Linked DNA regions of Homo sapiens: regions 2 and 3 are each linked to region 1. Evidence: fine-mapped QTL for protein levels in blood plasma. A gene starts in region 1. Each other region holds a variant in brackets. All regions are shown on one strand. Distances are between the middles of the regions.

Region 1 (2,766 bases):
CATACAATTTTGTCCACACTCACTGAGCTACATTTATTCACTAGTTCACTTAAGAAACCAGCATGCTGTTACATTCTGGCCCTTGAGGGACAAAGCTGAATGACACCCCGTCTTCTGTAATTTGCAGGATGGAACAGTCTGTGGATCCACTTTGAACTCGTGGTGGAAGGATGTCCCTTGGAAGGGGCAGATGCTCTGATCCTGGTAAGCCATCCTTGCTCCCCAGGGGTCCCCTCTCCTGATTCTTCACCTTCCTTCCCTTGAATCTGGTGAAAGGCAGTATTTGCCCTTCTCTGGAGACATATAACTTGAACACTTGGCCCTGATGGGGAAGCAGCTCTGCAGGGACTTTTTCAGCCATCTGTAAACAATTTCAGTGGCAACCCGCGAACTGTAATCCATGAATGGGACCACACTTTACAAGTCATCAAGTCTAACTTCTAGACCAGGGAATTAATGGGGGAGACAGCGAACCCTAGAGCAAAGTGCCAAACTTCTGTCGATAGCTTGAGGCTAGTGGAAAGACCTCGAGGAGGCTACTCCAGAAGTTCAGCGCGTAGGAAGCTCCGATACCAATAGCCCTTTGATGATGGTGGGGTTGGTGAAGGGAACAGTGCTCCGCAAGGTTATCCCTGCCCCAGGCAGTCCAATTTTCACTCTGCAGATTCTCTCTGGCTCTAACTACCCCAGATAACAAGGAGTGAATGCAGAATAGCACGGGCTTTAGGGCCAATCAGACATTAGTTAGAAAAATTCCTACTACATGGTTTATGTAAACTTGAAGATGAATGATTGCGAACTCCCCGAAAAGGGCTCAGACAATGCCATGCATAAAGAGGGGCCCTGTAATTTGAGGTTTCAGAACCCGAAGTGAAGGGGTCAGGCAGCCGGGTACGGCGGAAACTCACAGCTTTCGCCCAGCGAGAGGACAAAGGTCTGGGACACACTCCAACTGCGTCCGGATCTTGGCTGGATCGGACTCTCAGGGTGGAGGAGACACAAGCACAGCAGCTGCCCAGCGTGTGCCCAGCCCTCCCACCGCTGGTCCCGGCTGCCAGGAGGCTGGCCGCTGGCGGGAAGGGGCCGGGAAACCTCAGAGCCCCGCGGAGACAGCAGCCGCCTTGTTCCTCAGCCCGGTGGCTTTTTTTTCCCCTGCTCTCCCAGGGGCCAGACACCACCGCCCCACCCCTCACGCCCCACCTCCCTGGGGGATCCTTTCCGCCCCAGCCCTGAAAGCGTTAACCCTGGAGCTTTCTGCACACCCCCCGACCGCTCCCGCCCAAGCTTCCTAAAAAAGAAAGGTGCAAAGTTTGGTCCAGGATAGAAAAATGACTGATCAAAGGCAGGCGATACTTCCTGTTGCCGGGACGCTATATATAACGTGATGAGCGCACGGGCTGCGGAGACGCACCGGAGCGCTCGCCCAGCCGCCGCCTCCAAGCCCCTGAGGTTTCCGGGGACCACAATGAACAACTTGCTGTGCTGCGCGCTCGTGGTAAGTCCCTGGGCCAGCCGACGGGTGCCCGGCGCCTGGGGAGGCTGCTGCCACCTGGTCTCCCAACCTCCCAGCGGACCGGCGGGGAGAAGGCTCCACTCGCTCCCTCCCAGGAGAGGCTTGGGGTTAGGCTGGAGCAGGAAACCGCTTTCAAGTTATGCCATGCTTCCCCTAGGGTGTCCTTTTACGCTGCAAAGTTCCTGCTGACTTTATGGAAGACAGCAAGAGAGAGACAGACAGCGAGAGAGAGGGAGAGAGAGAGAGAGAGAGAAACTTGTTTGAAAGTTTTAGTCATTAACCTTCTGTCTTCATCTCAGAATATTAACGCCCTCATGTAGTCCATACTATCTTTGCTTAATGAACTTGAACTTTTATTATTAGTGGCAAAGAAGTGGTCCCTTAGATTCAGAGTAAGTTGGAAGAAGACGTTAGTCTTCTTAAAACCATTATAATTAGAATATGACATGATAGATTTTTCTAATGTAAATATTATGTGAAATTTTGAATAATTAGGAGAAAAGATCTCTCACACACACACTTCTTAACTGTGTAATGTTTTAATAAAATTTTATTGTTAAAATTATTTCACTTCTCAACTTCAATATACTGTGGAGAATATTGGCAGTATGTTATGTTCTAAAACATATCTAAAGAATTGAAGTTCACTAAATAGGGCTAAAAATTGTGTTTAAAATGTTATTTGGAAAAGAAAGGAATCTCTGTGACTTAGCTTTTTTTTTAAGCTTAGGTTTTGATCAAGTTAATAAGATTTGCATGTAGGTTTTTCTATGACCAATGACTTATTTTCTCTATGACACTAGAGTGTAGAGTACATCAAGATATGAATCAGACATTTATGCAAGGCTAGGAAAAGCCATATTTAAGCCACATATGTGTTTTGGATGTGTTTGAGTAAATGTTTGAACTTCAACCTCCAACCCACAAATAATGAATAGAAGGCTAGGTAGTCTTCTACTTAGTTCCTAGGATACAGAAACATAAATAAGTAAATAAATAGTAAAGACACTAAAGAACAGGTAAGTTGGATAGGAATCTACCCATAAGTATGTTAAAATATATATGTATGTATGTGTGTGTGTGTATAACTTCATCGCTAGAGATACTATGGAGTGCTTTTAAAAAAGTAAACCTTTATTAAAATATAACACATAGAGAATTGTGCAAGTGGTAAGTGCCTAATGCAGTTTTTCTAAGTGAGCACTTGTGAGCTAGCACACAGATCAAGAAATATATTATCGGCACCTCAAGAG
Region 2 (2,766 bases), 140 kb before region 1:
AAACATCAGACATGGTCCTGCTGAGTTTTCATTCAAAAAACTATGGTTAGGAATCACTGAGCTCTTCCAATGCTATTTCTTTTTATAAAAGTCTAAAAAATATTTGCCAATTAAAAATCTTTATTTTGTAAGAATAATCTTGTAATCGACATGCATATGTATACATAGGTTTAAGTCAGCATTTCCCAAATTGAGGTCTCACAGGTCTGTGAGTCTCTCTTTCTTTTAAACTATTCAAGATTTTAAAATAAGTGGTCTAGGGCAGCCCTCTTGTAGCAGTTGGCAAGAAATATTTCAAGTGTTCAGAAGGTGCACACATACACATCACAACCTAGAAGTTATATTTTGGTGAGGCCAACTCCCAACTTTGTGAGTGAAGACACTTCCTAATCATATCTGTGTTACTCTCTTCATCTTTGATTCCACTCCTCCCGTACCCCACCATTTCTCCAGTGTGTTATTCTTTTGTATATAACAAAGGAGGGAATTAAAGAAATAAAGAGATCTTGGGGAAAGGTGAATAGATCAATGAATCAGGTAGCCCTTTTTGTTTCTTTTTATCTTCCTCCTTAAGCTCTATGCCAGCTTAAAAAAAAAATGCTGCTTAGCAGTGGCTTTAGAAGGGAGACACAGCTATGAACACAGCACTATAACACATCGTTTCTTAAATATTCTCAGACAGTGCTTTTCCCTGGGGCTCCCAGTGTCCCACACCAGCCAGCCCTAAAGAATGCAACTTGAGAAACATATGAGAGTCTTGTTGACAGGTAATCTCAGAGGGGCATTCAGATGGCGAGTTAATTCATGTGTGAAATATATTTCAGGCATTGTTGGGGCAGAGGGCATTATGAAAGCTGCTAATTTCCAGGGCAAGGGCCAGGAGAGATAGAAGAACAATTATGATATTAAAATGTCAGTTTCACATCATTTTAGTTACCTTTCGGCCCCATGCGTCCCACTTTGCCATGCTTTCCCTCTTCTCCTGGATCTCCTTTTTCACCATCATCTCCTTTTGAAACAGAAAATGAGATAGAGTGAAGCATCTCAAACAGTAACATGAGCACATTCTCCCAGGGTAAGGTGGACATGGTTACAATCTTTCCCTCAGCTCAGCGCTTGCCTCACAATCCAGCTGTGAGTATGGATGTATGTTCACATGCACTTGACAATCAGGTGAAAGGAAGAAACTTCCAGTATATTTTTTACTTTTCTCCACATCCAACTCTATGTTTGAAGAAATATTCTTGTTGCTGAATTGTGATGTTTGGCCTGACAAATCTTTATTCTTGCTGTAGAATCTAGCAAATTCTGGATGGACAATAAACATAAAATTTACACAAACACACACGCACACACACACACACAGAGGCACACATAACTTATTACTCTCTGACTGCATGCTTGAGAACTCCAAAATTGTAGGCATGACCTAGGAAGCTAAGAATAGGAGACTAGGAATGGAGAAGCCACAAAGCAGTTTTCCATGAGTGGCAACTGTCTTAATCATAGGCAACTGTAGCTCCAGCACCTTGAAGAATTAAAGATTGAATGAATGGTTTAATGAACAATGCCCAGACTGAGAATCAGGAGTCTTGGATTTTAATGCCATGTTAGTCACTGATGGTTTGAACAAATCTTCAACAGGCCGGTGATTGAGTTTATTGGCTTTGGACTAGGAGAGATTTGACTGAAGTCTCAGCTCCACCACTCACTATCTGGAGAAATTTG[AG/G]TACAGAACTTCCCTCTCTGAGTCTCACTTTTCTCTCCAGCAAATTGATCTGATAACACCTACTGGAGTGGGCTTTCAGGAAGTTCAAATGAGACAACAGACATAGAACACCTGGGATACAATCAGTGCTTAGCAATGATGGCTGCTGTTTTTCTTTCCTTTATGCTTCCTTTCCTAAATGTGGGGATAGTATCTGCTCTCCAGGCCTCACTCAGTTGTTTTCGGATCAACAAGGTGAGCACGTGAATGTGCTTTGAAAACAAAGAACACAACACACACGATATTATGACCAGATACCTGCATTATCACCACAGCAATCTCAGGGCATGAAAGAGCCCTGTCCATCAGCAGATGAAAGGAGGAAAATCAAAACCTTCTAAAGACAAAAATGAAGTTCTTGGGATGAGACAGTTTGAGCGAGAGTAACTTGTGATGTTCATTGATTTATCCAGGAAAAAACACGACCAGAGATTGTCTCTTTTTATTTTTTTCTGAGTGCAGAATGTTGAAATTTTAAGTGAAAGCAAGGACAATGTATGGAAGAGTTGGATTTCCAGGTGTGAGATTGATCAAACATTGAAATACTTTACAAGGGAAGCTATAGATGCCTCCTAGGATGGCTTTCAGAAAAGAATGCACAGGTGATATCTGTGGTCAGACCAGAGGTAAGAATTGAGTGAACTAGATGAAATTTTTTTCTTCTTCTTTCTTTCTTTTCTTTCTCTTTCTTTTTTCTTTCTCTCTCTCTTTCCCTCCCTCCCTCCTTCCCTTCCTTTCCTTCCCACTCTCCTTCCTTCCCACTATTCCTTCCTTCTCTCTCTTTTTCTCTCTTTCTGACAGTGTCTTTCTCTGTCACCCAGGCTGGAGTGCAGTGGTGTGAACACAGTTCATTGCAGCCTTAACCTCCTGGACTCAAGTGATCCTCCTGTAGATTACATTTTTCTAGCTAAAGTTAACAGTGAATGTCTATTGAGCAATTATAAAGTCAGCCAAGCACAAGCTAAGGACTTGACATCTAGTCATCATAGCAATTCTAG
Region 3 (2,766 bases), 230 kb before region 1:
CATCATCTTTCTCTGTCACTCAGCCTCAAGTGTGGTGGCAGGAACATGGCTCACTGCAGCCTCAAACTCCTGGGGTCAAGTAATCCTCCCATCTCAGCCTCCTGAGTAGCAGGGACCACAGGTGCACACCATATGCCTGATTTTTAATTTTTTTGTAGAGATGGGATCTTACCATGTTGCCCAGGCTGGTCTAAAACTCCTCCCCATTCAGCCTCCCAAACTGTTGGGATTACAGGTGTGGGCCACTGTGCCTGGCCTTATATGTGAGTTGATTATCAAATTTTTCAAGATGTAAATAAATGCATCTAATTATGGCATTTCAGGTTTCATGTTAGATAATGGCGTGTGATTAAAAATGATACACATTCATTGAAGAGAATATGAAAAATGTATTAGAGTAGAAAATAATCATCCATAATCCTATCTGTTGATAGTTTTATATTTTCCTTCTAGTCATCTTTCTATGTGTATTTGCACAGCCACGGTAATAGATCTGAACATCCTTTTTCTTTCCTCTTTTATGAGATATTTTAAGCATTTCCTGTGCTATTTTTTTAAAAAATGAATGAGATTACCTACTGTGTTTTCAGTTTTGCACTCTTATAAATACCTCTTATGTTGAATATCTTTGTTCATAAAACATTATTTTCTGTGTCTCAGGTGAATTTGTTAGCATAGATTCCCAAAAGTGATATTATCAAGTAAAAAGATGTAAAACTGTCTTGACACACGTATCAAATTGCTTTCCAAAGTGTCAGTCATGGGTGCGAATGCCAGTTTCACTGCATGATAACTTGTATTACATGATGCCATTTAAAAGAATTGCTATAATAACTCAATAGTCAAAATGGTATTTTAAATAGATAAATGGGCAAAGGATAAGAAAAGATTATTCACAAAATAATGACTCAAATGTCAAATAAATAGATGGAAAGTATTCAACATTACTAAGAATAAAAAAATTTTGGTAATGATTTCTAGAACCATTTACATTTCCTGGTTGCATCTGCCTGGGAGAAAGTCTGATAGAGTTTTAAAATAATTAAAGATGGGATGTATTTAGGCCCACATCGATCTGCGTTTTTCCCCATCTTCTTCCAATGGCCCTGTGAGATGTGGATTTGCTGTTTACTTGTTAATGTCTCACTGAATACAGTATGTCTGATGTAAGTGGGACAGGATTTTCACAGCAAGAGATGTATTCTTCCAGATCACATTTAACTTTCTTGGAGAGTGATGTCTCATCTCAACTGTCCTTGTCAGTGCAGCAGCCCAGCATTCTTGTTGGTGGTGTTTGTTATTTTAAAATGTCTTCCTTTTCTCTTTGTATTGGGCTATTACCAAGTTTTCTTCCTGATGCATATTTGTTAGGTTGCTTGTTTCTTAATGTGTGTACTTTTACCCCTTATATTGTACATTTAAAAATTCTGTTTTCACATACATCAAGCTTCTGAAGTTATCAAACTTCCTGTTTTGAATGTATACTCCTGTTTATCTTGGACACCCTTAGCAGACTACAGTTCTGTTTAAAGCAGAGGTCACACACTGGCTCATCATGGGCCATATCTGAATTGTTGACATGTTTG[T/C]CAATAATATTTGAACTCAAAAATAAGTCACCAATGTTTAAAAATTGTGAAGTTTTATTTATAAGTTTAGATTGCAACTTCCTCTTATGATCTGGGAACACTGGGCCCACATTTGTGCATCAGGAATGGGCTGAACATAAGTAATGGCTGCTTCGGTCCAGCATAGTCATAGGTTCTTCTCTTTCCTGTAGGCCCTGGCCAGACCATTTCCTTGTTTATATCTCTTTGCCGAGAGGCAATATGGCTTCATTCCTGAGAAGCATGTGCTCTCAGTCAAACTTCCTGGATGCGACACCCATCTCTACATATTTGCTAACTCTGTGTCCGTGGTGATTTCCTGTACCTTTGTGTGCCTCAATGCTCTACCTGTCTTGTAAGGTTAAGAGTACCTACCTCATAAGATTGTTGTGAGGGTTAAATAAGCTTATGAATATAAAGTGCTTAGACTGGTGCCTGCATATAATATGTGCTCAATACACTGTGGGTGTTATTATTAACCATCTGAACCTTGTAGGCATTGAGTTGGTAGCCCCTGTTTTAAAATCTCTAAGTTTGGTTTGAGAATCTCCCATAGATGCTATACCTTCAAAGCTGTCAGGTTTCCTCATGAGAAATGTCATTTTTTCATAGTAACATCTCATTGAGAAGGATAGTTTCCCTCACTACAACACACCAATGCACACACACATGCACACGCATGCAACCACACCAGGTGTCGGGGTGGATAGTATTCAAATGCTGTGAGATTTAGAGATCTCCGAGTAATGTCTCCTCAGCAAGATACACACTGCTACTCCTTGAGTTGTGAGCAACACAAGGGTAGAACATGTGTTCTTTGTTTCTTCCTTCTCATATCAGTTGAAGAGTGGTAATGTCAACATCCAGGGTTAATTCCTTTTCATTCTCTAGATTCCATTTCCCCTCAAACCTTTCCCCGTCAACTCTCATTCCCACCAGCATTCTTCTCTCTCTTTTCCTTTCACCTCCTATTATCTCATTCCATTTAGTACAAATCTTGCCAGATGACTTTTTTTGCAGCTAGACATTTTAATTTTTATAATATTTGTTCTTTTGGCTTTTAACAATATTTCTTACTTCAATAGCTTTTTGGAGTTCAAGTGGTTTTTTGTTACATGGATGAATTATATGGTGGTGAATTCTGAGATTTTAATGCACCTAT

Alleles and levels. Positions count from the first base shown, and alleles are read on the strand shown. Strength reflects both the effect of a copy and how common the allele is.
With allele G in place of AG in region 2, the plasma level of the protein whose gene starts at base 1,402 in region 1 is higher (moderate association).
As copies of C replace T in region 3, the plasma level of the protein whose gene starts at base 1,402 in region 1 goes up (moderate association).

What was found. PIP is the posterior inclusion probability: the model's chance that the variant is causal. The UK Biobank Pharma Proteomics Project read protein levels with antibody pairs (Olink). The fine-mapping took linkage between variants from a reference panel, not from the people measured, so its PIPs are less certain.
Region 2: its variant is fine-mapped to the plasma level of the TNFRSF11B protein (UK Biobank, PIP above 0.99).
Region 3: its variant is fine-mapped to the plasma level of the TNFRSF11B protein (UK Biobank, PIP above 0.99).

Annotation. Positions count from the first base shown.
Region 1 is chr8:118,950,521-118,953,286 of GRCh38, reverse strand. It overlaps TNFRSF11B (TNF receptor superfamily member 11b), which reads left to right and starts at 1,402. Exons shown (of 5, transcript NM_002546.4): 1 at 1,402-1,495. The coding sequence starts at 1,466. It also overlaps a transcript of COLEC10 not described here.
Region 2 is chr8:119,087,923-119,090,688 of GRCh38, reverse strand. It overlaps COLEC10 (collectin subfamily member 10), which reads right to left. Exons shown (of 6, transcript NM_006438.5): 2 at 938-1,009. Among named protein-coding and RNA genes, the nearest start is that of COLEC10, 22 kb to the right of the region's middle. The variant AG/G (reference allele first, on the strand shown) is at 1,729.
Region 3 is chr8:119,184,445-119,187,210 of GRCh38, reverse strand. The region is part of intron 2 of LOC105375725 (a long non-coding RNA gene); the gene reads right to left. Among named protein-coding and RNA genes, the nearest start is that of MAL2, 23 kb to the left of the region's middle. The variant T/C (reference allele first, on the strand shown) is at 1,587.